Regions from separate parts of the Homo sapiens genome. Here region 2 is linked to region 1. The links come from fine-mapping of genetic effects on gene expression. A gene starts in region 1. The other region holds a variant in brackets. All regions are shown on one strand. Distances are from middle to middle.

Evidence for each region. PIP is the estimated chance that this variant, and not a neighbour inherited with it, causes the effect.
Region 2: its variant is the best candidate, but not a certain one, in a credible set for the expression of BHMT in thyroid (GTEx, PIP 0.72).

Annotation. Positions count from the first base shown.
Region 1 is chr5:79,106,003-79,117,898 of GRCh38, reverse strand. It overlaps BHMT (betaine--homocysteine S-methyltransferase), which reads right to left and starts at 6,090. Exons shown (of 8, transcript NM_001713.3): 1 at 5,981-6,090; 2 at 2,000-2,132. The coding sequence starts at 6,013. LOC124901012 (a long non-coding RNA gene) reads left to right here. Exons shown (of 2, transcript XR_007058837.1): 2 at 2,601-3,092. RefSeq lists an enhancer at 4,920-5,764.
Region 2 is chr5:79,064,024-79,075,919 of GRCh38, reverse strand. It overlaps DMGDH (dimethylglycine dehydrogenase), which reads left to right and starts at 6,246. Exons shown (of 16, transcript NM_013391.3): 1 at 6,246-6,400. The coding sequence starts at 6,300. BHMT2 (betaine--homocysteine S-methyltransferase 2) reads right to left here and starts at 6,153. Exons shown (of 8, transcript NM_017614.5): 1 at 6,105-6,153. The coding sequence starts at 6,137. The variant G/T (reference allele first, on the strand shown) is at 7,056.

The sequences.
Region 1 (11,896 bases):
TTTATAAAATGACTGTGAAACTTGGATTTCACAAAAACTTGGTTGTTTTCGTTAGGAGAATTAACTGGGCAAAGTAAGAAATCAGCATGCTATTAATATATCAGCTCCTGAAAATTATTTTGAAATTTCAGAGGTTTATGAAATCCAAAGGTCCAGGAGCAACTATATGACAGGCTAGGAAATTACTAGGACACTGAAGTTCTTAGCTCTCAGCGCTAACGCTGGAGATGAGTCTATACTCATCTCTTGTCTCCCAGACGACTAGTAGAGTAGAGTAACTGGAACATAGAAACCTTGGTTTTTGTTTTTAAAGAGATGAATACACAAGTGAAAAAAGCTTTTAAATTTTAGAAAATGCATTTGTAAGCTTGTAGCCAAAGATTTTCCATGATTTTTTAAATCATAGAAAGTTCTCAGTGGGACCTCAAAAGCATCCCTAAATTAGCGGGCTTCAAACTTGTTTTAATTAATAACAGAACCAATGAAAAATATAGGGAGTTCCATATATCAATCAGATAAACCCAGAGCTGCTGTGGCTGGAGAGGGCTGAAAGGCCTATATACTAGGTTTCTGGACACTAGGAATAAATGGTTTATAACTACGAAGTCCACTCACATGGTCCTTGGGTGGAGTTCCAGAGGTTTCATGAAAAAAACCCTGGAAATGTGTGCAAATTGTTATGTATAAATACATTTTACAGTGCAGAAGGTCTATAAAATTTTATCAGATTTTTCCACAGGGCAGTGATCCCAAACAGTTGAAGACAACTCCTCACTCTTGATTATTCATCATGCTTCTAAAACTGCAGTGATTCTCTAAGTATGATCCATCTTAGAGTCACCTGGGGGCAATTATCAGAAAGGCAGATTCCTCAAACTCTTCCAGACCCCGATAACCTGAATTCATTGCTGAATTAAAGCTGCTTCCACTGGGTGCAAGAACCATAACTTTGGGCATAAACTTTAGCAAGAGAATGAGGCTGGTAATTTGAGTATCCTTTCACCTACTTTTTCCTGACCACAAGGTTCCTACTCTAACCCATAATACAATAGGGCTAGTCCCTTTTACTCAATGACGTCGCTTATACTAATTGATTACCTTCATTTTATGGCCTTAACTCCTCATTATATTACTTATTTTAAAATCATAGAAGCTAAATGTACATTGATACATGATTATATATGTACATGGCATAGTTGGAGATTAGCCTTATAGATTTAGCTTGAGAAATGCAAGTTTTTAAAATTCCACAGCAAACTCTAAAAGGTCAAATAAAATTCTGAAGTATTTCTTCAGTTGGGTAAGTTTGCAGCAAAACCATTTGGGGGCAAAATATGACCTGAACCAACATGAAGGTATTGATAAACATGTTTCAATTAGTAAGGGTAGTCATGTATTTTGATGCAAAAATGTATTAATGTGTTTCAATGGGAGCTGCTTCAGGGCCCATTGGGAGTGTTACATAATATGCTACATTTGTACTGTATTAACTTTCTAACATCCCCAGATTCCTGGATTCCAAGATATGTTTGACCCCAAAATGTGGTTTGGACAGGGGATTGTGGGCCTGTAGCATAACCACTCCTTTCTTTTTGCCCAGAACATGAAAAAGTCAGGCCCAGGCATGAGATATATAAAAATGTTGCAGGTGAAGTCCAGCTTGCAGGAAGACTCTTCAGGGGTTTCCATCAATTCTAGCTACCACTCAGTCTAAATTACAAAAGCGCTGCAGATACACAAAATCATTTGCATAAAATAGCTCAAGCGATCCTCCTGCCTCAGCCTCCCAAGTAGCTGGGACTACAGGAGTGCACCACCATGTCCAGCTAATTTTTAAAAAACTTCTGAGAGACTAGGTCTCCCTATGTGCCCAGGCTGGTCTTGAACTCCTGGGCTCAAGTGGTCTTCCCACCTCAGCCTCCTGAGTTGCTGGGATTACAGGCATGAGCCTCCACACCCGGCTCCTTTATGAGAACTTACAATAGAGCTCTGCACCAACCTGCTTCTGGGTGCTCCACAGCAGCTTCAGGAGTCCAGGGTCCTGCCTTTACGTAGCCCCTCTTCTCCAGTGCAAAGACAAACCCTCCATCTCCAATCACAATCTCTCCAGCATTTAAACGTTCTAGGATGCCCTAAAATTACAGATGAGGGAGGAAAAGGAGTTACTTGAGTGTTTAAGATAATTTTCTATTTTTATTACTTTTGCTAACATATTCTTGGAGATGTGTGGTTATTTTAGAATTTTCAGAGAAAAATGTATATTTTATATATACATTTATGGCTATCTATAAGACAAACAACCAGAATGCTCATAAAATAAACATTTGTGTATTCCTTTGTATGTGCTGTGGGTGGGGGGGTCTTTCTTAACACGTTAAAGAGTATTTGAAGAACACCGTGGGAGGTGTGTTTGAAGAACTGTCTGCTGAGGGATTAAATGAAAAGATTTTGTTGTAAAGCCTCAAATCTGCACTTAAGCACAGATTCTTAAAATGGTAAATACTAGTCTTCTTACTCTATCAACAAACTAAAGAGAGGGTTAAAAAATTGTTAAAGAAGTTGAAATGGCATAGAATGCTATTTTTTTTTTTTTTTCTTAGAGACAGCATCTCACTATGTGCCCAGAGGAACTTGAACTCCTGGGCTCAGAAGATCCTCCAGTCTCACCCTCCCCAGCAGCCAAAACTACAGGCTCGTGCCACAGTGCCCAGCAATGCTATTAAGCCATTTTATTTTAAGACTGAAAAGGTGGCCAAATCACTCAAAGACTTCTATCTTTGGTGTTAAAATTCAGTTTCCACAACAGTAGCTATGCTATACAGTCCAGGTTATGAGTGTGCACATGCTGTACTCTATGATGAGAACAAGGAAGAGACAACTAAAGTATTTGTTGAATGATTTTTCAGCCCAATCTCCATACTTATTCCATTTACAATACTGTGCAGTAATCACCCTGGTGTTGTTCTATGGATAACTTTGGAATTAAGTATTTTGAAAGGGTTTTGTGAATTACAAAGTAATTCTCTAGTTTAATAGATTTTTTGTAATTTCAAAGAATCATAGACTTTAAAAATAAATAGTACTCAATTCAATTGAGATCTCTCTCTCATTTCACAAATGAGAAATTAAGACCCAGAGTCCCTGAGTAATTTATACATGGTTTTCCAGATGGGGAGCATAGGGCTTCCTGACTCTTTTATGCTTAAATAACATCTATATTTGATTTCAAATGGGATTGGGGGTGGTGGGACAGCCCTGAAAAAAACTGTATAGTGTAAAGGAATAACTTGGGACGTATTTACCCAGTGTGTTCCACTTACTACCAATAACAGTGGATAAAACAAAAGCTGACATAATAACAAGATTCCAGAAATCTGTGAGAGGCAGTCACAGGATTTTGCATCCCAATTCCTTGCCACCTTCTTAGAACCTCCCTCATTTTCATTCTCTTCCCCTCCACTGCCCCTTCCCATGCCATTTGGACAGCTGGTGCTCAGAGAGAGGAAACAATTGACATTTCACCAGACAGAAGCAAAGTGGTAGGATTATGCTGTGTGTTCCCTAATATACCTTTCAGATCAAAACATTTTCAAGCCATAGTGTTGAAGCCTTGTTATCTTATGGGAGCCCATAAGATAACAAAGCACAACAAAAATATAAATGGCTCACACGTCATTTTGAAATCCAAATATTTGTCATGATTGCAATGTATCTAAATGTCACATCTGAAAACTGCAACTTTGATTATGACCTAATTAACAACAACAATAATATATATATGTATACATATATATAAATATATATATATATATACTACTGCCAGCACAGTTACATAAAAAACATAACAAGGGTCACTTAAATGAGATATGACTTGCTACTAACTTTTATTTGGATAAAATAATTCATGACATTTGGGCAGTTAGCAGCTCCCATTGAACGTGTGTGTTTTCAAATTTTAGTACCACAGCATTTTAATGTGCAGCATAGCTAAGGATCTGATGCTGGGTGGCAGGGTGGGTAGTGGCGATTCAATTACTATGTGGCTCATGCACTTGTTGAGTGGTTACCTCTGGAAATATGATCTCTTACATTCTATTGCATTTTAAAATTATCTAGACTTCAGGATTTTCTGTTCCCAAGCTAAACAGACTTTTTAAAAGGTGGAATGTGCTATGAAAAAAATATACCATTTTGTGAAAAAGTATTACAAAACAGTATATGTAATATCAGCCCATTTTTGTCTAAGAAGTGCATATTTGCCTCAACAACAAACTAGCAGAATATACACCAGAATTTAACAGGCACTGTTCTTTGTGCTTTCCCTCATTGTTTATAATGAACATGTGCAAACTTTGTAACATTTATTTTAATTTTAAACTCAAATGTGTAGACATGTTATTGTCCATATATTGTTTTAACACTGACATATGCACGGAAACAAGTTACTAGGAAACTGTTTTTTCCATCTTACATTCATCTGTTGCTTAGATAATTCTACAAAGATAATTCTTTAAAATGTTAGATTTTCTGAGTTTGAGTTTGGGGAATAAGTTAGACTTACGTGGCTATGAGAATGGGGACAAACAAAAAATATCTATATCTATAGGAATCATCCTTCCCAGTCTCTGTGGACTATTCATTTAGTACATTTAGGGACTGGCGAAATTCTCACCCTCCTTTGACTGGTGATAGTCCATAGTCCTTTGCCATCTCAACACCCACTCATGCCATCAACATGCATCCACGATGCTGCATTTAGAATCTGTAACCGAATTGACCTTCTTCCTTGTGTAGAGGTCTTTTTGATTTGGGAGGCCATCCCTTTAGAAACTGGGCACACCTCAGCTGGTTCTCCAGCAGGGCAGGCACTGGGATGAGAGCTGGACCTTTCTCACTGTCCTTACAGCCCAGAGGATACAGTTGGCCTGGCCCCATCTGCCTCCCTACCATTTTCCGGGGGCCTCTGTCGTGCCAGGCCTGGGACTGGGCATTTGACCAAAAGGTCAAGTTTATTCTCTCCTCCCTCCATCCTTCTCTCTCTCTTCCCACCTGTCCAGTCTCATTCCACGGCAGTCAGTCCATCTATCCATCCGTTCCCCAAATTAGAGGAAGGCCTACCGTCTGGACTGAAAATACCCCTCCCAACAAGCCACTGGGATAGCCAAGAGATGGACTTGTTCATCTGGAGCTGGAATTGGGTTTTACAATTTCATCAACAGCCCTTCCTCAGTATCTTACAGCCACTCTGCCCATTTTTTCTTAAACCATGTTTTCGAGGCTGACATTTCGGATGACATTTTTCTGTCATCACGGACATCAAATTGCCTGTGAAAATCTGCAATCACCCAACCAGCGCCTGGGCCTTGGGTGCAGCGAGAACCCGGCGGGGAGGCGGCCCCGACACCCGCGGTGCAGATCCAGGCGGGAAATGTCGGAGCCAGCGCCGTGCACTCCTCCCTGTTCTGGGCGCGCCGGGTGCAGAGGGCGCTCGCGGCGGCCTCGGACACAGATGCGGAGGGGCTCCGTGGGGACGGGATATCGCGCCTGCGGGGCTAGGAGCAGTATCTCTAGGGAGTTTTCTGGTCTTGGGGTGCCAGATTCAGAAGATATTGGAAGGCTCGGAGTTCTGGGGACACCCAGCCGTCAGGGAGGGCTCAGAGGGTGCCTTTGGGTCTGAGAGGCAAGGATCACATAGATCTGGGGCGCACTCTGGTCCAAGCTGGGCTGGGGCTGGAGGGGACAGAGGCGCTCTGGGGGCGCGCTCTGAACGTGGGGCAGGAGTGGGGAGGCTCAGAGGCGCCTTGGGGTCCTGCTGGAGAAGTTCTGGAAGCACATTCTGGTCTGAGGCTGAGGGAGGGGAGGGAGTAGGAGGATGATGGGTACCAGGCAGGGTCCGAGGGCCCCTCTGCGCTCCCAGAGGCTGGGATACAGAGCAGGTGGGAGGGGAAGGAGAGCGCCCTCGGGTCCCCTGGAGACTCACCTTCTTGGCCTTTTTGCCCCCAACGGGTGGCATCTTCGTGGTGTCCAGACAGGTGGTCGACACGGATGCGGACCGACTAGGCGAGCCTTCCCGCTGCGCAGCCCCGAGCTGCTCCGAGTCCGCAGCCTGCCTCTTTATACCCGCAGTTGGGCGTGGGGAGGGCCTCCCAGCCACCGCGCGGGCCAACACGGACCTTGGGCGGGAACACGCCCACCAGCCCTTCATCAGGCCCGCCTCCTGTTGGGAACCTGGCCTGCCAAGGAGGTAATCCAGATTGTTCACCCAAATGGGTGGAACCACCGAAAAGTAAGATAAGAAAAAGCGAGGTTGCCACTCGCTCAGATTTCAAACCTGCCTAGCGTCCCTTTTGCCTCTTGCACTTTTGCCCCGACCCTGACCGTCCTCTCGCTCACCTGGGATCATGCACCATGGCCCACTTAGGCTGCCAGAGAGGCCTCTGAGAAGTCCATTCGATGCTCAGATATTTGTCAAAGGCCAAGGCGTCAAGATTATGGAATCAGGGGATGAAGTCCTGGAAGATCTTCAGCCTGGAGTGTGATCTCCTGTGTGATATACATCCAGTATAACGGGACACAAATGCGGCTTTAGTAGAGGAGTCCAATACTAACCCTGAATTGGCGGGTATGTTCAAAATGACCTTCTACCCCTATACCCAAACATGCCTTGCAGTTTCTAATAACACAGTAGTTTCTAATAAGAATATGTTTGTAATATTTAACAAGGACAGACTTTTAACATTTATAAATGGAAGCAGAAATGTACTTTGAAGACTTCAAAATTCAGCATGAAAACGATATAAAAACATAGACATTAGAAGAACTGGAGGGAATAGAGATGTTAACAGTAGTTACCTATTGATGGCGGAATTAAGGCTTGTTTTATTTTATTCTTCATGTTTCACTGTATTTTCCAAAATATTTTTATAATGAGAATACATTGATTTTAAAATAATAAAAACATTACTTTAAAAAATGTACAGCATGGCCTGCACGGTGGCTCATGCCAGTAATCCTAGCACTTTGGGAGGGTGAGGCGGGTGGATCACCTGAAGTCAGGAGTTCGAGACCAGCCTGGCCAACATGGTGAAACCCCCGTCTCTGCTAAAAATACAAAAATTAGCCGGGCATGGTGGCAGGCGCCTGTAATCCCAGCTACTCGGGAGGCTGAGGCAGGAGAATCGCTTGAACCCTGGGGGCAGAGGTTGCAGTGAGCCGAGATTGTGCCATTGCACTCCAGCCTGGGCAAAAAGAGTGAAACTCTGTCTCAAAAGAAAAAAAAATGTACAGCATGACAGTAAATAGCCTACAGAACAATGAAATATCTGAAACACAGTTCAGAAAATTTTACCCAAATAAAAGCATGTAAAAAAATTCTGTATGTGGACAAACAACCTCCATTTCAACACATGCAGAGAAGAAAGTTACTGCAACACCTGATGAATTAATACAAATTTAACGGCTAAAGTGACATGTGTTTGAAATACAACTGAGAAAGTAAAAATGTCCTTTTGCTTCTAAGTATGTCAAGTTTAAAATGGAAAAAGAAATGAAAAGGTGAAAGGATATACTGTTATTCAAGTGATCTATTATTTCATTGGCTCCTCCACCCCCAACTGTGATCTGGGGTCAGCAAGAATGAGGCATGAGGTAAAGTCATTCTTCACAGTACCTAGATTAAAAAAAAAAAACACCTTGAAGGCATTGGAGTATCCGAATAGGTAACAGTTTAGTTAGTTAATGCGTTAACTAGTTAAGGTATTCACCTGGTGAGCACTGGTGAGATGAACAGGTCTAGAGTGAGCCCCGCGGTGGCTGCAGGGAGCAGCCGCAGTCGTGGGTATCTGGCACTAGGAGGCGGTATAAGCACTCTAACACTCAATAAAGGCTGAAAGCCGACGTTCCCAATTTCAGTTTCCTCAAAATGTGGCAAAACTTGGGAGAAATTTTAAACTAGTAGCATTAAATTTAGAAGTGAATTATGAATTTTTAATAGGTAATATAGACACATGGCAAAAATTTTACTTTTTTAATCTTTATTTCTCCAAGAACAAACATGGCAAAAAAAATTTAGAAGCCTTTCCCCAGCTGCTGTTGCAGATCAAGTCCCCTCCCTGGAGGTAACCACTATTGCCTGTTAACCGTTCTTCCAGAGGAATTTTATGCATACCTAAGTGTATAGATGTATATAAAAGGATTTGTACTCGAACGTAGGGAATTTTCGTTTTTTAAAAAAATTATCGACTCCCAGCTTTTCCAGAATGATTTATAGGTGCTGTCAAAATATTTTTGTTTTTTCTGGGCCTCTCAATTTGTTGTCCTAACTATCCCATGCCCCCACCCCCAATTAGGTCCATTTAAAAAATTATTCACTTATTTCCATAATAGATGATAATATCCACCATGTATGTAAAAGGCACTAAGCCTTTTACTTACACAACATTATTTACCCCACACAACTCTGTGAGGTGGGTGTCCCCTCTTTGTTCTCAAGAACCACGAAGTTAGGGAGTTAGATGGATCATCAGCATGCTCCCTGAAGTTTCTTTGCCCCATTCCCAGAGAACTAAGTCTGCTTGGATACCACTTAGGAAGTGAGGTTTTTTGCTTGTTTGTTTGTTTTTTTGAGATAGAGTCTCACTCTGTCGCCCAGGCTGGAGTGCAGTGGTGCAATCTCAGCTCACTGCAACCTCTGCCTTCTGGGTTCAAGTGATTCTCCTGCCTCAGCATCCCGAGTAGCTGGGATTACAGGCTGGCGCCACCACACCCGGCTAACTTGTATTTTTTGGTAGAGACGGGGTTTCACCATGTTGGAGAGGCTGGTCTTGAACTCCTGACCCCAGGTGATCCATCCGCCTCGGCCTTCCAAAGTGCTGGGATTACAGGCGTGAGCCACTGCACCTGGCAGGAAGTGAGTTCTGCAATAAACTGTCCTTGGGAGGCTGCCTATGTTCTCTGATCTCTACTGGAGTCAACCAGATGAGGGAGGTCATAAGACTGAAGTCCATGGCTGTGTACAAAGATGTTGGGGGTTAAAAATAAATCCCAAAGAAGAAGAGGAGACTTAGAGCTGGCGATCCACCCCCTTCATTTTACAACCTCAAAAGATACTCGGTTATTGTTCTGTCTCTGACCAGTGCTTTGTTCTATTTGAAATCCTATTTATTCACTCAATAAACATTTAGGTACCATTAATACAATGTTTTAAACCCTATGCTTGGTGCTGGAAGTAAAGGATATCATCTCCTTTTTTTTTTTTTTCAAGGAAGAGATAGAAACCATCTCATATAAGTGCTAAAATGTTCCTTTTACCAATATGTAGATGGAAAAATGTCAGGACTTTTCATTTCCCACTCAACTGGGATCTCTTTTAAAATGAAACTGACTTTTCACAGGCCTTTTTAGACTAAATATGTTTCATTTAGCCTTAAACCATTGAAGATACTTTAACACTGTGTTTAATGATGTTTTATATTTTAGTATGATGTTTAATGATGTTTTAACACTGTGTTTAATGGTGGTTTTACATGTTAACACTGTACAGAACAGTGTTTGCAAACTGCTGATGTGGAAATGGAGCCAGCTTCTGCGTTTCCTTTGGCAAGGCCAGTGTTTTTAAAAAATTGAATGTGAATTCCTTTATGTGGCGCTTCCACCCTTCCCATTTGCTGGTCTGTACCACACCCAGCTGCCCTGCACTCTTCTGGTTCACATATTTACCTTACCTTAAAGGCATTTGGGCTTTCAACTTCTGCTATAAATAGAAGGTATATTTGGGGTTACGGAATACATGTTCCCCCAAGTAGCCCCCAAACCGAAGATTTCATTTGCCTTACATTTTCCTACTGCCACTAACCCCCGTTATTTTTTCTTGCCAGGATGACGATACTAAAAGGTTGATGAGGTGGATTTTCCTTCTAAAACTCTCTTCTGCAGGTGCACAGGTTTTCCTCAGTTTACCTGTCCTGTCCAGCACCCTGTCTATTGCAGTGGCCACATACATGCATTTGTCCCAACACGTTCATGCATAGCCAACCACTGCACAATTACTCCTCTTTAAAGGGTCTTGGTTTCTTCATATGGAAAATTAGAAGTTGAAGCTGGGTGACTTTTCAGATTTGTCTTTGCATTTGGTTTGGCATAAACTTAGAGCACAAAACAGCCTCTTCCCAGGGTGCTTTCATTGCCTTTCCCTTGCCATCAGCGAGCCCTTCCTGAGCCCGGCTCTGACCGTGCCTGTGGCTCCTGCTGGTGCCTCCAACTGCTGCCCATGCTTGAGTTTTTGCCTTTAATTTCCTAGTTCTTAGAGAAACAGCTGAGCTTTTTGTTTTTGCTTGTTATCTCAGAGCTTCCTTCCACCACAGGTGAAAATGCTTCCCTCAGGGCTTGCAGATTAGCCAGCATATCCAGCGTCTCCAGCATCTCCTGGCTTTCCACAGAGGAGTCCTCCAGCTGATATTCTTGTTCATTCTGGACACCTCCAGTTTCCCAGAACTATCCTCTCAGCATGGTAATTGCATCCTGAGTTCCCTTTCTAGCTCTGAAATTTCCTCTCTTCTGCTTTTCCTCAAATGCTTTCTAACAGGATGATTAGCCTGTCACATGCCCTTTTGTGGCTTTTTTTTTTAAGCAGATAACTGTAACTTTATGAGCACTTCCTATGTGGAGTTAGCTGTGCTAAGTGCTTTGTAAGCATTAGTAATCCTTACAATAGCCCTGTGAGGTAGGGATTTGACCAGCCCGATTTTACTGATGACAGTGCTGAGGCCCATGGAGGCCAGATGAGAACTTTCCCAAGATCATGTCAATAGTAAGCACAGAGCTGAGAGAGGACGTCAGCTGGGCCGAATGAAGCCAGAGATCACACTCTTTAGAGTTACTCTATGCTTTCTTTTCAGTAGATTGTTTTTCTCAAAAGCTCCCCAAACTTTTTATAACCTCATCTGACTCATGGACATTCCCACTCACCTGGCCCGACCCAGAGGTCCCTTCTCCTGGTCAGAAGTTCCAATTCATTGGACATACAGTTAGTGACAGACAGAAAATAGTCTGTCCTGACCAGGCTACCCCACCAAATACCCCATGACTTCTGCACTGTGTGTAACCCTTGGGTTGCCTAGTCATTCTGAAATGTTGTTGTTTTTGATAGGCATTGGAAAACAGAAGCACTAAGTTCTGGGAATAGCCATTCAAATCTTAATTTCTATCATCTTTGTGAGCTGCTAATAGATGTCTTAGTTCATCTTTCTCTGTCTTAATAGGAAACGGTTGGAGTGGATGCTATAGGTCCCCTTTTTCCCAGGGGTCTGGTACATGATGTTTAAGTGGTCCATCAGCTCCAGTATGTAGCTCCTGATCTGGGTAGTCATACCCCAGGGACAGCCCTGCGACTTGGTCTCAACCCTGCAGAAGAAAGAAATACACAGCAGCCTGGCGGGTGTGTGGTGTGAGAAGGGAGAGATGGCAACAGAAAGATCAACAGCAACTCAGGGATAGCTGGTTATAGGGGATAGCTGGTTATAGTGGGATGAGATGTGGATTCTAACCCGGGGGAACTTAGACACCAGCACCACACTGAGGAGCTTACATGTGACGGGAAATTCACTACCAGGTTGGAATCCACACCCTGCCACCCCTTTTTTTTCTTACACAAAACATGCTGTTTTCTCATTTCCATTTCCTGATGGTTTGCACATAACTGTACTAGTCAGCTGCATCTGAAGAGGATTTTGTGAGGGCTTTAGCTGGTGCTGATGCTGGAAATCTTTGCCTATGTAAAGCGTTTCTTTGGCGGTAAACTAGTACATGACTTTAGTCTACTTTGAGATTATTATCAGTACATGGCCCCCTGTTGACTTAGAAAAGTAGTGACACATTTCTGACTAGCAAAATGGTCATC
Region 2 (11,896 bases), 42 kb after region 1:
CTTCAGGAGCTGTAAACATTCACCCCTAGATGCTGCCATGGGGTACCTGCATGCTCCCCCTAGGGGTTTAAGCTGTGGGGTGCTGAAGAAGTGATCCACGCCTCCATCACACACCCTGCAAGGGGCATAAGGGAACTTTTCCCATTTCACTTGGTCTAAAGCACATCTCCCCAGGTGCCTGCAGGGTCATCCCCTCACTGCTTTCTGGTCTTTGGTCAAGTGTCACCTTTTCAGAGATGCCTTCCCTGAGCAATGCAAACCACCCACTCCTCCCAACTCCCCACAGCAATCCTGATCCCTCTTTTGTAGGCTGCATCAGTGGAAGATGCAACCTTTTATTGATAATAGGCCAGTTCATTTCAGGCCTGCCCATAGCTGGACACAAAGCAATGAATGGATCAGGGAGAAAAGCCTCAGATGCCTCTTTTAACTAGTCTTATCTGTTCTATGAAATCAACATAAACCCCCTCAGTTCCTGAATCCAAGGGAGACATCAAGCAGGGTACATAGGCAGCTTACTGGCCTACGTGTTGGGTGTAGGGTAAAACTAAGCTGTGTAAAAAAGAGGCCCCCACAACAGTGGCTTTAAATAAAAGTAGTTTCTTTTTCCTCTGTAAGAGGAAAGCCACTGTTTGTGGGGGACTCTTTTTTACAGAGTGTGCACCAAATTGCACAGTCCTTTTATCTTATTGCTTTGCCATTCCCTACGGCAGGGGTCAGCACATGACAGCCCACAGACCAAATCTGGCACATCACCTGTTTTTGTAAAAACAGTCTTAGGTAAAACCCTGCCCATTGATTTACATATTGTCTAATGGCCACTTTTCCACTACAGTAGCAGAGTTGAGTAGTTACCACTGAGACTGTATGGCCCCCAAGGCTAAAAATAATTACTATCTGACCCTTTACAGAAAGCGTTTGCCAACCCAGCCCTAGGGTACTGTCCTCCTCAGCATGGGGGAAACTGGATCAGAGTCACGTTCATACTCTGTCTCAAACGATGAGGAAACAGTGTGGCAAAGCTCATCCTAAAGTTTTTAGCTCAGACCTAGAAGTGACTCATCTCATTGACATTTACATTTCCTGCGTGAGAGTTTAGCCACATGGCTCTACCTTGCTGCAAGGGAAGCCAGGAAGTATCATCAGTGAATGTCCATGTGTCCAGCTCCAACGCTAATCCTTCGGAAGGAGGGGGAACAGATTTTGGAGAGAAACTGCTTCTGTTCTAGTGTCTGGCATCTGCTATTTCTCCTTTGCTTACTCCCCACACAAAGTGACCCACCCAGGTGTCAGGAGCGAGCTTCCTTGGATACCAAGGAACAAAGAGATCCCAAACACATTTTGGCCATATTGCTTGATATACTATTTTCTTCAATCTTTTCCCAGGAGGCTGGAAGGCCATAAAGGCAATAAAGAATAAGAGGGAAGCTAATTTGATCTTGGTTACAGGAGTCTTTGTCCTTAGCTGGGTCAATCCTGGATCTAATAAAAGCAACCAGAAATTAAAGCAGACGTGAGGATCTTCCCACAGAGCCTCCCAGGACAGTCCTGTTAACAGTATGGAACCAAACATGAGAGGTCAAATATGGCTTGAATAATCTCTTAATCTCCATCGAATGGCATGACTAGAGAGGGGGCTTATTCTAGCTTTCTCCCCATGTTCAGTTTAGCTGCAGAAGTACAAACCACTCTGACTAAGCAGAAAGGAGTTTAATATTGAGAAATGGGTACATAAAAAATTTACACTGGGCTTCCAGAAATGACCCCTAGAAAAACATGACTGAATTGGCCGGCTGGGGCTGCACCCTCTGCCACAACTAAGAGAAGCCACTATTGAACTGTTGGCTTCAGGACACAGCTGTCATATAGGGAGAAGGAGGCTGCTCCAGCGACCTCAGCTGCCCCTCACGTGACCCTGGAATGCTGCACTATGGCCACATTTGCTATGCTTCCACCTTCCCAGACTCATACTGGTGCATCTGATTGGGGATGCTAGTTCTTATCCAGATCCTAGCTGCAAAGGAGTCTGGCAAAGTGGTTAGTTTTCTTTCCTCTGCAGTGCAAGAAGGTCCATCAGAAGGGGTTTAACTAGAGGTAAATACCAGGTCACTCTACCTACAGCATCTTTTTACTGTGCACTTGGAGGGCAGGCAAATGGAGCCCAGCTGTGTGAACTATGTTAAACATAAACACTATTTTGGCAGAGAGAGCTCTCAACTCTGGTTATTTTTCCATATTTTATATCTAAAGCTGAATTTTAGCTGAATGCAGAAGAAATGTTAATATTTACTGATTCTCATCTCTTTCTTTCTCCTCCCTGCATCAAATGCAATTCACTCTTTTCAATTTGTACTTTTGAAATATAAAAAAGGCCTTAAATTTTGGACGTTTATTGAGACCTTCCACATGTCAGGTATAGTTGTGGGCAAGTGGGATAAACATCAGAATAAGACAAGGTCTCTGCCCTCCACAAGCTCAAAGTCTGGCTACTTTGGGGAAGGCCAATAAATCAACAAATAATCACAGCAGAATGTGACCAATAAATGCTACACAGGAATACAGAAGAGAAAGTCAGAGGTACAGTTACTGTGTACAAACTGTTTTCCTGAAAATCCCATACACTTCATTAGGTTCACCATGTTAAGAATCAAATTTAGGCCAGGCGCGGTGGCTCACGCCTGTAATCCCAGCACTTTGGGAGGCTGAGGCAGGCAGATCACTTGAGGTCAGGAGTTTGAGACTAGCTTGGCCAACATGGTGAAACTCCATCTCTACTAAAAATACAAAAATTAACTGGGCATGGTGGCAGGTGCCTGTAATCCCAGCTACTTGTGAGGTGGAGGCAGGAGAATAGCTTGAACCTGGGAGTTGGAAGTTACAGTGAGTTGAGATTGTGCCACTGCATTCCAGCCTGGGCAACAGAGTGAGACTCTGTCTCAAAAAAAAAAAAAAAAGAATCAAATTTACTCAAACAATTGTCGAGGGAAAACATTGGCACAGAATTCAGATGTTGTAGGTTAGCTTCTCACCTCCCACATCCAACCTATCACAGGGTTATGCCAAGTGTATTACACATTTCTCAAATGCCCCACCATCCTCACTGCATTTGATTATTGAAATGGTCTCCAGTTCTCTCCAGCCCTACTCTGAACTGTCTTCCATTGCTACCAGAGCACAGGCTCACTGACCCAGTCTCACCTGTGATTATACCCCTTTTGTGTCCTGCTTAACTTCACAGATCCTTCATTCATGCATCCCCCTGTACAGCAGTATCTGGTTACTTACTTGTCACCTCAGTTTGACTGTAAGAGGCTTGGGGGCAGGTGACATATCTTATTGGTCTATATCCCTACCACCACATATAACAACTAAAATGAGTAGACACTTAAGAAACTATGCCAAGAATTAGCAAATAAACAGGACTGTTTTGAAAATGTCAGATGTATTGCATATGCTAGAATTTTTGTCCTGAAGAAGAAAAAATGTTACTCTTTAGCAGACAATTAGGTAGGTTTTAAGAAAATTGTAGTATATATTTTGACTGTGTCTTTATGAAACCAAGTAAAGGGAGGACATTTTCATTTGTTATCTGGATGTTTGTCCACCATTTTAAATTTGCCATTTTTCTTTTCTTTTCTTTCTTTTTTTTTTTGAGACAGAGTTTCACTCTTGTCGCCCAGGCTGGAGTGCAGTAGCGCGATCTCAGCTCACTGCAACCTCCACCTCCAGGGTTCAAGCAATTCTCCTGCCTCAGCCTCGCAAGTAGCTGGGATTATAGGTGCATGCCACCATGCCCAGCTAATTTTGTATTTTTTAGTAGAGACAGGGTTTCACCATGTTGTCCAGTGTGGTCTCGAACTCCTGACCTTAGATGATCTGCCTGCCTCGGCCTCCCAAAGTGCTAGGATTACAGGTGTGAGCCACTGTGCCCGGCCAATTTGCCATTTTTCTACATAGCCATTAGCAAAATAACTAAGTTATCAAGATTTGAGATCAGAGCATCTTTTAGCCCTTCCTTCACTGCTATTCTAACTACCTCAATTAATTACTATACCAGTATGATCCCTTCTTTAGTTTTTTTTTTTTTTTTTTTTTTTACTTTTAAGTTCAGGGGTACATGTGCAGGATGTGCAGGTTTGTTACACAGGTAAATGTGCATCATTGGAGGTTTGCTATATGGGTTATTTCCTCACCCAGGTATTAAGCCTAGTATCCATTAGTTATTTTTCCTGATCCTCTCCCTCCTTCCACCCTCCACCCTTCGATAGGCCCCAGTGTGTGTTGTTCCTCACCATTATACTAGTACGATCTAAAGTCAACTGTAAAATTATAAAGACAGGAACATGTAAAATAAGGAACCCTGTAAATTAATTTTGCAGTACATTTATATTTTCATTCCCTCCTCCCCATCAGTTTGGCAGTGAACCTGCCTTGCATCTGACAGCGAGCTCTAGGGTGCATTTATGCCCCCTTTTTGCAGATATCACTACGTAAGACCTCTGGGTTTAAGATCTGGCTTCAAGACATCTCTATTCATACTCAGTGGGGATCAACTTCACTGTGTAGTAGGAGGTGATCAGAAAAACCCAGTCTGTCTAAAATAACTTCCCCTTTTCCTAGATTTGCCAGCAGAACTGCTCTTTTGGATTTAAGACCTAATTGGAGGTCTTGTCTGTGGCAATTAAATGAATTCTTAAAATGTACCTGCTAGCTGAGGAGAGAGGTGAGATTAGTTCCTTCCCATTAACACCTTAACTCCCAGGTACACATTCACATGGATTAGTGTGTGATAATCTTGGTGTTGTAACAGTAGAGGCCCCAAAGACACTGAACAAAAACAGGGCATTTTAAAAACGTTTAAAAATATGAACTGTAAAGATGAACATAGCATTAGAGAAAGTTGAGAGAAAAAAGCACAATGTTCTTTGATTATTTTTATTAACTGTATTCTTTCAATGCTCACATTTTGCTTTTATAACCTGAAAAAATATCCTAAAACATGCTTTTTAAACCAATATTCCACATCTTGTGTAACTATTACCATTATTGTGTCCTTCCTTACAGTGTGTATATAAATATTTGTATATGGTTGGGATCAGTTTGTGATATATTTCCTTTTGCAACTTAACATTGCCAAGGCACTTAGCTGGTTCTCATACTAAGTTATTTAACTGTCTAATAACTTAAGTAGATGAACCTTAATTTATTTAGAATCCCGTATTGCAGAGTATCTTGGTCGTTTCTAACTTTTTAGTATAAATAGCTCGGTGGTGCACATTTCCACGCATAAACTGCCCCTCCTCCCTTCCTCCCATTCTGAATGACAGGGCTGGAGCGGGTGGGGGTCTCTGAAGGGTCCTGGGGATGTCTTTCGTCCAAGCTCATGCCCTTCCTAATTTTGCTTAGTCACTCCTTCATCCCACCCCCACACATACTCGACGTAGAAATGGCTGGGCATAAAGCCAACATCTGGTGACCAGACCAGGAAAGGGGCCAGGAGCTGGGGACCACCGGGTGAGAGGAGGTTGAGGGGTGCTAGCGAATCCCACCTACCCTCCACCCTGCACCGCAGCTCTGGGGGCGTCCTTGCCCAGGACTAGTTTCAGACCAGCCGGCGACTCGCAAGGCCAGGCTGCTTGGCCAGGCTGCTGACTTTTCCAAAACGCGAGGGGACAGTCCGAAGAGTTCCCGGACGGATTAGCCCAAAGAGCTGCGGGCGAGGGTCGGTTGAGGGAAGAAAATGTGTGCGCGACATGCGTCCGAAAGCTAGACTTCTGATCCTCGCTCCCCGCGGGGCTGGACCCGTGACCCTGAGCTAGTCGCCTGACTCGCCGAGCCTCAGTTTCCTCACCTGTGAAATGGGGATAATTGTGAAGATGAGGAGATAACTTGAGCACAGCACTCTGTGCAGCGCCAGGCACCGAGTAAGGGCTCCATAAACGCTAACCAACCCGTGACAGGGGAAAATTGAGGCTCAGGGCCATCCCGTCCAAGTGTTTTGCCGAGGCCCCAGGGCTTGGCTAGGGATGGACGCCGGGTGTGAACGGAGTCGCTCGCAGCCCAGCGGCCAGGAGCTCCGCGAGGATCGAGGGGACGAAACTCACCTTCTTGGCCCCCGGGCGTCCAGCAGGTGCCATGGTGCCGCGGCTCTGTGGGCGCCGGGTTCCCGGGCGCGCGGCCGTCTAGGAGCCCGCCCCCAGCCCGGGGGGAGGATCCGACCCCCGCCCCGCCGGCCCCGCGGCCTCAGGCTGCCCGCTGGCCTCGGAGCAGGCGCCTGCGCCCTCGGCCTCGGCCTAGTCATGCTCCGTCCCGGCGCGCAGCTGCTGCGGGGCCTCCTGCTGCGGAGCTGCCCGCTGCAGGGCTCCCCCGGGCGCCCGCGCTCTGTCTGCGGCCGGGAAGGGTGAGTGGGGCCCCGTCCTGCTCAGAGGCGACGGGGCGGCTGCGGGGGTGGGAGCCAGAGGCTGAGGCAGGCTCAGGGGTTAGGAGCGCTCTGGCCTCCAAGAAATAGGCCTTGATATATCTTCTCGAATTATCTTTTAATTATAAAGTGAAACAGTATCCAAAGGTTCCCCGTGTAAAGTCTCTCCTGCCCCAATCCCCTTGGCCAGTGAACAATTGTTAATAGTGTCTTCTGAATCTAACCAGAGACAGTCTACGCATAGGCAAACACAGGTCAGTATAGGTTTTCCTTTGGCTTTTTGACATCTTGCTTTTTACAATTATCAATATATCTTGGAGATTGTTCCATATCAGCACACACTGACTTGCCTTGTTCCTTTTAATGGCTGCATAGTTTTCCATCCTGTCAATATTCTACACTATCGTTAGTCTATTCATTAACATTTAAATGGTTTTTGGTTGTTTATTACTGCAAATAACGTGCATGTGAAAATTCTTAGGCATCTATCTTTGAGTACATATGGGAGTCGGTAGCAACAGTTTTTAAAGGTGAACTTGTTAGGGAAAAGGTTACGTGCATCTGAAAGATTGAAAGACAGCAACACATTCTCCAAGTGGGTGGCAAGAGTTTGCATGCGGCACACCAGTGTGTGTCT[G/T]TTTCCCACATCTTCCCTGGTTCCCAGAATAGCCCATTTTGTTATCTTTGCTAAATCTGATAGGTAAAAATGGCATGTCCTTGTTTTGATTGGTCTGTATTTAAATATGAGCAATGCTGAACATCTTTCGACTTCTTATATTTGTAGATTATTCCTGGTTGCCAGGAAAGGCTTGTTTATCAGCATCACTCAACATTATTATGAGTTGATTCGAATTTTATTTTATGTCCTATGACCTGAAATTCTGGAATCAGAAGACCTGCTTTTGAGTTCCATCTATCCATTCAACAAATATTTACTGGGTGTTGTGATGTGCTAGGTTTGTCTCCAGTACTGGGAATGCAGTAGCCACCAACTCACAGTTCCTGCGCCATCTGTTACACAGAATGTGACCTTACACTTCTGAGGTTCAGTTTCCTCATCTATAAAATGAGGATACTAATTTTGCTCTATATAACTCACAGGATTGCTGTGAATATTAAATAAGAGAATGCATGTGAAAGTGCTTTGTAAATTGTAAAGCAATGCAAAAATATTTATAATAATGATGTTTTTAATCCAGTGCAAAATAAAATGGAAATTTAACAAACAAACTGATTAGATAAATAAGATACAAATTTCAAGACTATCCAAAAAATTCATATTTTGGCTGAGTGTGGTGGCTCATGCCTGTAATCTCAGCACTTTGGGAAGCTGAGGTGGGCAGATTACTTGAGGCCAGGAGTTTGAGACCAGCCTGATCAACATGGTGAAACTCTGTCTCTAATAAAAATGCAAAAATTAACTGGGTGTCATGGTGTGCACCTGTAGTCCAAGCTGCTTGGGAGGCTGAGGCGGGAGAATCGCTTGAACCTGGGAGGCGGAGACTGCAGTGAGAACCGAGATTGCACCACTGCACTCCAGCCTGGGCGACAGGGATTCCATCTCACAAACAAAAACAAAAACACCCAAAAGTTGAGTTATTTCAATTGCATATTCTTTATATACCCAATTTCAAACTATCAAAAAATGTTTTATTTTGGAAAGCAGTTGAACAAGCATACAGTTTGTGCTTATCATTTCTAATACAGAAGATAACTGACCTGGGTTTTTTGCATGGCTCCTAAGTTTTATTTCAAATACTCTTATAAACATCCTCGACTACATTCAGAAGGATTTTAAGATAGTTATCCACATAATCAAAAACACTATACCTAGTCTGAAACCTATTATGGCATGCTGGGCCGAGGAAATACTATATATTTGATAATGCTTTATCATATGTTGCCAAACAGAACCTTCACAGCTCCGTTTTGCAAATGAGAAAACTTTGAGACCCTTGTGTAAATTTCTCTAAAATAGCTGTTCAGTTGGATTGGGGACTCAAACCCAGGTTTCCTGATCTTAAGTTCTCTTTTGTTGTTGTTGTTTCAACTGACCACTGTCCTGAAAGAAATAATTCTTTCTTTTGAACACACAAAAAAGAACCTTTAAGATTATTATTTTTGTCACCACTATAATGGTTTCAACTAAAGTACAAGATATGCCCAGTCTGTTTAAAAATGGATTTCCGTCCAAAGTAGTTGGGTCATATGTACATTATTTTTTTCTCACACAGCATACAAAGAGACATTAATAGTCATCTAAAAACCGGTGAAACAAAACTGCTGAAACATGTTGTGGCACCAGGAAATAAGGACATGCTCTAAGAATTATGTAGCCATGTCAAAAGCATACAGGAGTCAACTGAAAGAACCTCCTGCTGGCCAAATCTAGGACAATTTGGTATTCAAATAAATGATGACTAGTAATGGATTAGAAACCACTGAAAACAATAAATATCCATAAATTCATGTTAATATAAACAACCAACAAACAAGGGTGAAAGAAAATTACTTCCTTACAGTAGAATGCCAACTATTAAATATAATAGGAATGATGGGGTTAGGAAATAATCAATAGATGTTAAAGCCACTCAGTAAAAGTTTGATAAGGACCAGGATATTTACATGGTCTCAAAGTAACACTTCACATTATTACTTATACAAAGGAAAAAATGGTAGCTTTACTAGACAAATCAGACAGACACCACCTTAAGCAAGTCATCAGACAGAAACAACACCAATATCAGGACAAACCAACATCATACGCTTCTTAATCATATACACTGGGAAGGAGTCAACATCAGTTTCATGATGTTTTTGCCAAAAATGCATAACATAAGTCTCATCATGAGGAAACACCAGACAAACTCACAGTAAGAACTGTTCTATAAAATAACTGGCTAGTACTGGCCGGGCGTGGTGGCTCACACCTGTAATCACAGCACTTTGGGAGGCTGAGGCAGGCGGATCACGAGGTCAGGAGATCAAGACCATCCCGGTTAGCATGGAGAAACCCCGTCTCTACTAAAAATACAAAAAAAAAAAAAAATTAGCCGGGCGTGGTGGTGGGCGCCTGCAGTCCCAGCTACTTGGGAGGCTGAGGCAGGAGAATGGCATGAACCTGGGAGGTGGAGCTTGCAGTGAGCCGAGATCGTGCCACTGCACTCCAGCCTGGGCAACAGAGCAAGACTCCATCTAAAAAAAAAATAAAATAGAATAACTGGCTAGTACTCTTCGAAAATGTGAAGGTCATAAAACACAAAGGAAGTATTAGGAACTGTTCCAAATTAAAGGGGATTAAAGAGACAGAATCCTGGATTTGATCTCTGACTGGAAAAAAGTAGCTATAAATTGATTGGAATAATTGATTAAATTTAAATATGGACTATAGATAATAGTATATCAATGTTAAATTTCTTGACTTTGAAAACTGTACTGTTGTTATGTAAGAGAATGTCCTTTTTCTTACCAAACTAGCAAAAGAATATTTAGAAGTAACTGGGTATGATACCTACAATTTACTCTAAAATGTGTATACACATAGAATATACATATTATAATATACATATATGTATAGTCATGTGCCTTATAATGATGTTTCGGTCAATGATGGACCACATATACAATGGTGGTCCCGTAAGATTATAATGGAGCTGAAAAATTCCTATCACCCAGTGATGTCATAGCTGTCATAATGTCATATGCAACACATTGCTCACGTGTTTGTAGTGATGCTGGTTAAACAAACCTACTGTGCTGCCGGTCACATAAAGCTATAGCACATGCAATTACATACAGTACATAATGCTTGACAATGATAATAAATCACTGTGCTACTGGTTTATGTATTTACTACACTATACTTTAAATCATCATTTTAGAGTATACTCCTACTTATAAAATAAAAAGTTAACAGTAAAATTGGCTCAGACAGGTCCTTCAGGAGGTATTCCTGAAGAAGGCATTGTTATCATAAGACATGACAGCTCTGGCCGGGCATGGTGGCTCATGCCTGTAATCCCAGCACTCTGGGAGGCCAAGGCAGGTAGATCACTTGAGGTCAGGAGTTTAAGACCAGCCTGGCCAACATGGTGAAACCCCGTCTCCACTAAAAATACAAAAATTAGCTGGGCGTGGTGGTACGTGTCTGTAATCCCAGCTACTCGGGAGGCTAAGGCACAAGAATCGCTTCAACCTTGGGGGTGGAATTTGCAAAGATGGCGCCACTGCACTCCAGCCTGGGTGACAGAGTGAGACGCTGTCTCAAAAAAAAAAAAAAAAAGGAAAAGAAAAGAAAAAGAGATGACAGCTGTGTATGTGTTATTGCCCCTGAAGACCTTCCAGTGGGACAAGATTTGGAGGTGTGAAGACAGTGATATTGATGATCCTGACCCTGTGTATGCCTAGGCTAATGTGTGTGTTTGTGTCTTAGTTTTTAATAAAAAAGTTTGAGGCCAGGCACAGTGGCTCATGCCTGTAATCCCAGCACTCTGGGAGGCCAAGGCTGGAGGATCACTTGAGGTCAGGAGTTCAAGACCAGCCTGGCCAACATGGTGAAACCTCATCTCTACCAAAAACACAAAAATTAGCTGGGTGTGGTGGTGCACACCTGTAATCCCAGCTACATGGGAGGCTGAGGCAGGAGAATTGCTTGAACCCAGTAGGTGGAGGTTGCAGTGAGCCAAGATCAAGCCACTGTACTCTAGGCTGGGCAAAAGAGTAATACTCTGTCTTGGAAAAAAAAAAGTTTGAAAAGTTAAAAAAATATATATATTTTGTAATAGAAAAAAGGTTCCAGAATAAGGATATAAAGAAATAAAATATTTCTATATAGCTGTAGAATGTGTTTGCATTTAAACTGTTATTACAAAAATCAAAAAAATTTAAAAGTTTATAAAATAATGAAGTTACAGTAAGCTGTTAATTTATTATTGAAAAAAGAAAAATACATTTAAAAATAAACTTAGAGTAGCCTAAATGTACAGTGTTGATAAAGTCTACAGTAGTGTACAGTAATGTCCTAGGCCTTCACATTCACTCACCTCTCACTCAGACTCATCTAGAGCAACTTCCAGTCCTACAAGCTTGATTCATGGTAAAGTACCCTAGACAGCTGTACAATTTTAAATCTTTTTTTTTTTTTCCTTTTGAGACAGGGCCTCACTCTGTCTGCTAGGTCTGAGTGGAGTGGCGCACTCATGGTTCACTGCAGCTTCAACCTCCTAGGCTCAAGCAGTCCTCTTACCTCAGCCTCCCAAGTAGCTGGGACTATAGGCATGTGCCACCAAGCCTGGATAATTTTTGTATTTTTTATAGAGACGGGGCTTCGTCATGTTGCCCAGGGTTGTCTTGAACTCCTGGGCTCAAGCAATCTTCCCATCTCGGCCTTCCAAAGTGCTGGGATTACAGGTGTGCATCACCAAACCTGACCTGTTCTCTAGATTCTTTGAAAAAAAGAAGCTACTTGTTCATTTCTTT